Homo sapiens: one gene and its partner. The protein of the gene in region 1 purifies or fractionates together with the protein of each later gene. This does not show direct contact. Each region holds a gene or a part of one and is shown in the gene's direction. Other genes may lie near its edges. The genes, in order: SPDYC and RBFOX3.

Evidence for each region.
Region 2: the proteins of SPDYC (region 1) and RBFOX3 purify together in Homo sapiens (affinity purification with mass spectrometry; one large-scale study listed by BioGRID and IntAct). This does not show direct contact.

The regions. Positions count from the first base shown.
Region 1 is NC_000011.10:65,168,881-65,173,190, forward strand, and holds the start of SPDYC (speedy protein C), read left to right. Parts: upstream 1-1,352; 5' UTR 1,353-1,381; intron 1,382-2,446; 5' UTR 2,447-2,477; coding exon 2,478-2,619; intron 2,620-3,062; coding exon 3,063-3,121; intron 3,122-3,365; coding exon 3,366-3,451; intron 3,452-3,553; coding exon 3,554-3,725; intron 3,726-3,803; coding exon 3,804-4,134; intron 4,135-4,302; coding exon 4,303-4,310. UniProt on the Homo sapiens protein: Promotes progression through the cell cycle via binding and activation of CDK1 and CDK2. Involved in the spindle-assembly checkpoint. Required for recruitment of MAD2L1, BUBR1 and BUB1 to kinetochores.
Region 2 is NC_000017.11:79,096,810-79,100,610, reverse strand, and holds part of RBFOX3 (RNA binding protein fox-1 homolog 3), read left to right. Parts: intron 1-2,844; coding exon of another isoform or gene 2,845-2,865; coding exon 2,866-2,919; intron 2,920-3,186; coding exon 3,187-3,319; intron 3,320-3,777; coding exon 3,778-3,801. UniProt on the Homo sapiens protein: Pre-mRNA alternative splicing regulator. Regulates alternative splicing of RBFOX2 to enhance the production of mRNA species that are targeted for nonsense-mediated decay (NMD).

The DNA.
Region 1 (4,310 bases):
CACTCCGGCCTGGGCAACACAGCGAGACTCCGTCTCAAAAAAAAAAAAAAAAAAAGTAAAAACAAATATTCTCCCCAGTGTGGGAGATCGGTGTCAGATCTCCAGGGGTGGCACTGAAGGAAATCAGCCTGAAGGCCCTCCCAAAGTTAAAGTGACTAGCCCACTCCCAGGCTTCTTTTTGGTACACCTTCCTGATCTCTAACCTTAATTACTGGGGGAGGAGGAGAACAGTTGAAAACACAGCTGGTCTAGGAGATTCATTCGGTTTCATGGAACACCTTCTCTGTGCAGGCAGCGTCCAGGAACAGCTGTAGACCACACAGCCAGGCTACCCAGCGTGTGGGCCCAGCAGCCAGGCTGGAACTCTATCTCTACTTACCAGCTGAGTGGCTGGCAGGAAGTTACTCAGCCTGTCGGTCAGCAACCCAAACTCTGTGTGTTAGTTGTTTGTTCGCTGACAAAATGAGGCTTCTCATCATTCTCATCAACTTCACGGGCTTGCTGTGAGGAACACGTGAGCTGATTCCATCACAGACTCCTCAGTAGGCAGCAGTAGGTGTTTAGTGAACGGGCTATGGATGCTGCCCCACTCACTACTTCCTTTCTAGGGGAGGCCGACTTCAAATGCGTGCACACACACAAACAGGATGGCCTGATGCAGACCAGCTGGTCTAGAAAGGCCTTCACGGCCTCAGGGAGCCTGGGAGGCGGCCTGGGGGAGACCATGAAACAGCAGATACACCAGAGACCAGAGATCAGAGAGAAAACAAAGGACCCAGAGATCCACAGACATCCAGACACCAGAGGCAACAAGAAACTGAGAGACTCAGAGGCCCACTGAGACCCAGGCAGCTTGTTCTGTGTTACGAGGGGAAAAATAAAATAAGAAACAAAAGAGAGACTCGGGGGGCCTCAGTGAAACCTAGAGACTCAAGGAGGCCAGGAGATTCAGAGACACCCATAGAGAGCCAGAGACCCTGCCCTAGCAAGGCACAATCAATGAAAAAAAACTCGCCCACCAGGCCCTCGCAGTCCGGGTCTCATATCCCGGCTCAGCACCTTGGCGCTGCATTTGTCAAGAGGGGAACAGGGATCCTAGCTCCCTGCCTGTCCTATGGGGCCTTAGGCCCTGGGGTCCAGCTGGCCTGCCTTCACCCCTCTTGTAGTTGATGAAGCTTTGGAGAGGCTTTCAAACCCTGGGGAGCCACAGCTGGGTGCCGACTGGACTCACTGGCAGAGAGGCAGGCGGTGAAGGCCAAGCCTCGCCCCCCAGGAAGGCCCTGATTGGTGGACGGGCTGCTTTGGGCAGGGCCGCCCTCAGGCTATATAAGCGCACTCGCGGCGGCGTTGGTGTTATGCTCTGGGCCATTCCTGAGCTCGGGTAAGGCTCGCTGCAGGAGGAGGCTGGGTTGCTTGCGGGCGCCTAGATGGAGGGGCCCAGATTGGCCCTGGGGTGGTCGACCGCACGTTCTCCTCGGCCCCGTGGTTGGCTTCTCTCTCTCAGGGATGAGGGTGGGTTTAGGACGGGAGCTTGAAATGTTTGAAGTGGCCCCATCAACTTGCTCTAAATCCAGGTATTTTTCTAATTTCATTCCTCCCTGAGGGCCTCAGTTTCCCCTCGGTGTAAGGGATCAGTGGCCCTTTCAACTCTGCTTTGGTGAGGGGTCGGGGGTGGTTGTGAGTTGGGGCCTAGAGGAGCAGTTAAACTCTTGGGTTTTTTTTTTCTTTTTTTTTGGCCAGGCGCAGTGGCTCACGCCTGCAATCCCAGCACTTTGGGAGGTCAGGAGTGTGAGACCAGCCTGGCCAACACGGTGAAACCCTGTCTCTACCAAAAAAATACAAAAAAAATTAGCCGGGCGTGGTGGCATGGCGCATGCCTGTAATCCCAGCTACTCGGGAGGCTCAGGCTGGAGAATCAGTTGAACCCGGGAGGCGGAGGTTGCAGTGAGCCGAGATCGCGCCACTGCACTCCAGTCTGGGCGACAGAGAGAGACTGTGTCTCAAAACAAACAAACAAAAACCAAAAAACCTCTTGGGGTTTTGGAGACCAAGGGCTTCACTTTTAACCGGCTGTTAGGCCTCAGCTTCAGTTTCCTCGTTTGACGACCGGTCTGAGTTAAACTTACCTCCTTACCAGGATGGAATAAGATAAGGCCCTTAAGCACAGCCCCAGGCACTTAGGAAGCCCTCAGCGGTGCTTGTTGCTGCTGTTACTCTGGCCTGTCCTGGGGTGCCAGGAGGAGGGTGAGGGTGCCACACCCTCACCTATAGCAACTCTTTGCTTCTTTTCTGGCCTCCCCACTCTTGTTGCATCCCGGCTGCCTTCTGTTCTGAGCCCCCAAGTCTCTGCACCCACCCCTCCACCGTCCTGGCCCCTGTCACCACCCTCTTGATTTGTGAGCATCACGGGGGTACATGCTAAGTCCTGAGCCTCCTTTCTCTACAGGTCACCCTGCCCCATCTCCATCTCCTATGAGATGAGTGACTCCCAAGACCCCACCACTTCCCCTGTAGTTACCACCCAGGTAGAGCTGGGGGGCTGCAGCCGGCAAGGTGGGGGCAATGGGTTCCTCCGTTTTCGCCAGCACCAGGAGGTCCAGGCCTTCCTCAGCCTTCTGGGTGAGTTTGGAGGGCTGGCACGGGAGGGGCCGTGAGGTCAAGTGTGAAAGCAGATGTGAAGTGTGGGGTCTCACCTGCCTGTACAGACATCTGAGACCTCTGACCCTCTCCCTCTCAGGTATCCCAGCTTAGGCAGGTGGGAGGGGTGTCCTCTCAGAAACTGGATTCAGGGCCAGGCACCGTGAGTCATACCTATAATCCCAACATTTTGGGAGGCTGAAATGGGAGTATCACTTCAGGCCAGGAGTTCAAGACCAGCCTGGTCAACATAGTGAGACTCCATTTCTATTTATATTAAGAAAGAGAGAGAGAAAGAGAAAAAGGGAGAAAAAGAGAAAGAGAGAGAGGGTTCAGTGGTGGCTTGGGCTTTGGAGCTTCTGATGCCACTCTTCTCCATGGAGGTGGTGGTAACCTGCGTCCTGTCATGTCTTCTCTACCCTCAGAGGACAGTTTTGTCCAGGAATTCCTCTCCAAAGACCCCTGCTTCCAGATTTCAGATAAGGTGAGGGAGTACAGGCTGGGGGTCTCTTGAGGGTCAGGTTGAGTTGGTGGGAATTGAGTGCCCTGGTCTGGTAGGGAGAGCCACTCACCTTCCATCCTTACCCCCTCATCTTTGCACACCACTTCCCACCATTTTACTGACTTTCTTTCCCTGCAGCAAAACCTCCCTGGGTGCAAATGAACCTGGGTGCAAGCCCCTCCTCCTCAGAGAATAACTAACCCCCCACCCCGATCTGTCTCTGCAGTATCTCCTGGCCATGGTGCTGGTCTACTTCCAGCGCGCCCACCTGAAGCTCAGCGAGTATACCCACAGCAGCCTGTTCTTGGCCCTGTGAGTGGTGGGGGCAGGCAGTGGAGGCATTTGCTGGAGGTGTCAGATGGGACAGGGCAGATGTGTGGCCTCTGCTCCCTGACCTTGTGCCTCTGTGGCTAGGTACCTTGCAAACGACATGGAGGAGGACCTGGAGGGCCCCAAATGTGAGATTTTTCCATGGGCCCTGGGAAAAGATTGGTGTTTACGAGTGGGGAAATTCCTGCACCAGAGGGATAAGCTTTGGGCACGGATGGGTTTCCGGGCTGTTGTGAGCCGCCAGTGCTGTGAGGAGGTGAGGCTGGGAGGCAACCTGGGGTGTGGGGAAGGCTGGGGTTCCCACCCCATTTACTGTCCACTCTGCTCCTCCCAGGTCATGGCAAAGGAGCCATTCCACTGGGCTTGGACTCGGGACCGGCGCCCCCACCATGGTGGGGTTCAGAGGGTCTGTCCACAGGTCCCTGTTCGCCTTCCCCGGGGCCCTGGCCTCTCGCCGCCCCACTGTTCCCCCTGTGGTTTGCCCCAGCACTGCAGCAGCCACTTGCTTAAGCCTGTGTCATCCAAGTGCCCTTCTCTGACCTCTGAATGTCATCGCCCTCCCTCCCAAAATTATCTCTCAAGGGTCAAAAACGCCTGGGGTGGGGACTTTCTCATCGTCTTGCCTCCCCAGATGCAACTGGAACCAGGCACCTACTCCCTCCGCAGTGAGTGCAGGATGGGACAGGAGCTGGGGGCTGGTGTGGGAGCTTGGGAGGCAGGAGTGAGGACCAACAATATGAGAGAGAGGGCCATGGGCCTGGGGTCGACGTGCTGCCCCTCCCGTGTGAGCTTGGCAGGTTTCTTCTCTGAGCCTCACTCTTTCCTCTCCCCAGTCTTCCCA
Region 2 (3,801 bases), on another chromosome or scaffold:
AGCCTCTCATGGCCCCCCATGTGATCGGCCATACGTGGAGTCAGGTGACAACCAGCATGGAAGCCTGGACAGGACCGCCCGATCCGCCACCTCTCCCCCGAGCTCTTCTCCTGGTGTCCGATGCTGGGGTGGGGCCGGGCCTCTGGCCTGGCCCAAGTTAGACTTGATTCTCATGGCCTCATATCCTGCTTTTCTGAGGACTTACACATCTCAAATTCTTTTTAAAAATTTGGGAGTGTTCCCACTTTGCAAGCATCCCGAGTGCGTCCTGGGTGTGACTCTTCTGTGATCTGGCACTTGGCACAGGAAGTAAAAGCGGTAGACATTTTTATAGGGTACAGGTGATCAACCAGCGGGGCTGCAAAATCTCTGGAACCAGCTGCCCACTCTGCACCCAAGGGCCACACCCACCGCTGTCTGGGCAGAAGTGAGAATTCAGGGGAGCATGGAAATCAGAACAGACCCATCTCTGAATGGCCTCGGGCTATGCGGCTCATGAGGGGCACGGAACCTACACCAGTGAAACATCAGGGAATGGAGGGAGGTGGGAACCTTTGCCCACCTTTGCAGCAAGAGCCGTTTCATCTCAATCTCTTCATCAGCCTGGGCACAGAGGGCTGCAGTGGGACGGCCCTGGGTTCTCTGCAGGTTGGCACCGAAGCCAACCCATGGGCTCTGGTGGCGAGTGCTGCGTGACTTGGCTTCAACACTACCCAACACTCTGGAATTCATCAGTTGGGGGTGGAGGTTTCCATTGTAGAAAACAAACCCACCAGGTTTGCCCAGGTGTTAACTATTTACGGTAGAAACAGGCCAGCCAGGCAGTCTCAGGCTGTCTCTGCCATCTGGGGTTCCAGACAGTGAAATGGAGGCAGCAGAGACAGGTGGAGGCTCCCAGAGAGGCAGAATTGACAGGGGAGGGCACCCAGGAAGCCAGAATCACCGGTGGAGGCATCCAGGAAGCCAGAATTGACAGGTGAAGGTGCCCAGGGCCATCTGAAGCACACATGCAGCCTCCAAGTCTCACTCGCCCAGAGTGGACCCAGAAGAGTCACTGGATGGAGCCCCGGGGAGTCTGGGCTTGGGGTCAGGGTCTCCAGGACTCTGCTCCATCATGGGCCTTCTAGTAAGAAGAGTCAGTTCTTCGGACTGGAGGTCTTCCCAGAAAACAAAACATTTCTTTCAGCCTGATGCAGTGGCTCATGCCTGTAATCCCAGCACTTTGGGAGGCTAAGGTGGCAGGATCCCTTGAGCCCAGGACTTCAAGACCAGCCTGAGCAACACAGGGAGACCCTGTCTCTACAGATAGTTTTTAAAATTAGCTGTGGGTGTAGTGGCAGGCACCTGTGGCCCAAGCTACTCGGGAGGCTGAAGTAGGAGGATCGCTTGAGCCCAGGAGGTCGAGGCTGCAGTGAGCCGTGATCGTCCACTGCACTCCAGCCTGGGCAACAGAGCAAGAAACTGTGCCCCCCTACCCCCAAAAAAAGTTTCTTCCTTCCTAACCTGGGATTTATCTTTTTGGAAGATTCCAAAGTCCCAGCAATGGCGTCCAGACACAAGGTTGTGTGATGGTGGGCCGGGGATGCGGGGTGGGGTGAAGACTTGGCCAGAGGGAGGAACATACCCCGACCCTCCGTCCTCACTGCCTCCAGTCTGCCTGCCCTGCAGTGGGGTTGTTAGAATCTGGGTCAGGGGTTCACACATGGCCTGGGCCCACTGCCACCCTCTCCAGATGTATCTCCCCAGCTGGCCAGTGGGCTCTCGTCCCTGCTGTTCCTCCCCACCCAGTGCAAAGGGACAAGGAGCCGGGCCCACGGGGCATGCTGTAGAGATAAGACCTGGGTACACTGAGGAGGGGTAAGGGGCTGGGCCTCGTCAAGAAGCCCTCCTGCCCAACCTGTCGGAATGCCTGGAGCCGGAGCCCACTGCAAGGCAGCTGGTGTCCCCCGCAGAGGCCTCCAGGTGGAGCAGGTCTTTGCTCTGCTCCTGGGTTCCCCCGGGGAGAGGAAGACTGGCCCACCTGCAGGAAGGGAGAGGCTGGGATGCCGATTACAGGCTGGGATCCCTGGCTCTGCCACTCCCCAGCTGCTGACGGGAGGTTGCTGTGCCTCTCCAGGGCTGTTTCTTCATCTGCAAAATGGGGAGGGTGTGGTGGCTCACTGGGCAGGGAGGACCCCGTGAGTTTCGAACAGTCTGTGTGGCTCACACACAGTGTTGAGGAAAACCAGCCCATCCTTATTATCATTCCCAGTCCAAATGCCCTTTCCTCCTCGACCTGCTCCCAGGCCACCCTCCCGGACAGCCGCTCTGGGGGAAGATGAGGACGGGAGGAAAGTGAGAGCAGGACTCAGCACGGGGAAGAGGGAGCAGGACGGGGACTTTGGCAGGCAGTGGGGAGAGCTTATGGGCAGAGTCCAAGCGCCTTTCCTGCAGCCTCTGGCCACCTGGAGCTCGGATGGTGGGGCTGTGCTGAGTCTGACTCCAGAAACCCTCATCCCAGCTGTGCTCAGGGGGGTAGATAACAAGTTCCACTTTCCCTCTCCAGTTCTCTTCTGGGAGGTGGGTACCCCAGGCTTCGGGGGATGACGCCCAGGGGTGAGGGTTGCTCAGGGGCAGGCTGAGGAGGATCACAATTGGGAAAGAATCCTAGCAGACCCCCAGGCAGAAGAGTCAGGAAGGAGTAGACCCTGGTGTTTTGAACTCAGCACTTGTCCGGGCAGTGTGGGAAAGGGGGGCCCGGCGCGGGGAGGCGCCCTGGGAATGTTCCCAAGGGCTCCACCGGTGTCGCTGGGGTTCCCAGGCATACGTTTTGGTGGGAAAAGGGTCGGGGAAGGCAGTGACTAGGTCTCTGTGCCTTTGTTTTAGGCTGGAAGCTAAATCCAGTGGTCGGCGCAGTCTACGGGCCTGAATTCTATGCAGGTAAAAGCTGGGGCGGGGCGGGGATGGGATGAGACCAGCTACTTGGCCCCGTGGGGCTCCGGGGGCTCTGGGGGCGGGGCATGAGGGGCGGGGCCAGGTGGGCCGTCCCCGCCCTCCCGTCGCCGTGTTGACTGAGTAGCGCTCCGGGGGCGGGGCTTGGGGAGGGGTTGGGGGCTAGGTGCGCGGGGGGGCTAGGTGTACGGGGAGGGGGTGCCAGGTGGGTCCCCTTGTGCCTCTCACACGTGTCTCGGGCCCCGTTTCCTGCAGTGACGGGGTTCCCCTACCCCACCACCGGCACAGCCGTTGCCTACCGGGGCGCACATCTTCGGGGCCGGGGCCGGGCCGTGTATAATACATTTCGGGCTGCGCCACCCCCACCCCCCATCCCGACTTACGGAGCGTGAGTACCTGGGCCGGGGGAGGCGTGGAGGAGGGGGTAGGACGGCGGGGAGGAGGGAAATGGGGAGGCCCTGCGCAGTGCGAGGGGCTAGGCAGCCTTTCCAGACCTGGGGGGGGGGAGGATCGTGGGAGCCCCAGAACTCAGCCCTGCAGCTGCCTCCATTATCTTCACCCCTATCCCCACCACGGCGGGCATCGCGGAGGTCACTGGCATTTAGGGGGACATTCAGAGCCCCAGAACCTTGTCTGGATGCTTTAATGGGGCCGTTGTCCACTCTTGAGGTCAGCGAGGGGCTTCTCTGAGCCCTCTCTGCTCCCATTCCCTGGGGTCTGGTGCCCTCCATCACTAAAGGGGTGGGGGGCACAGCTGCCTGGGGTCGGGTGGGCTATGGGCCCCGGGGTTTGTGGGAGAAAGTTGCTGATCAGCAAGGGTGTTACTCTATTGTTATACCAAAACAGGGCACTGGAGCAAACGCTTGTTAA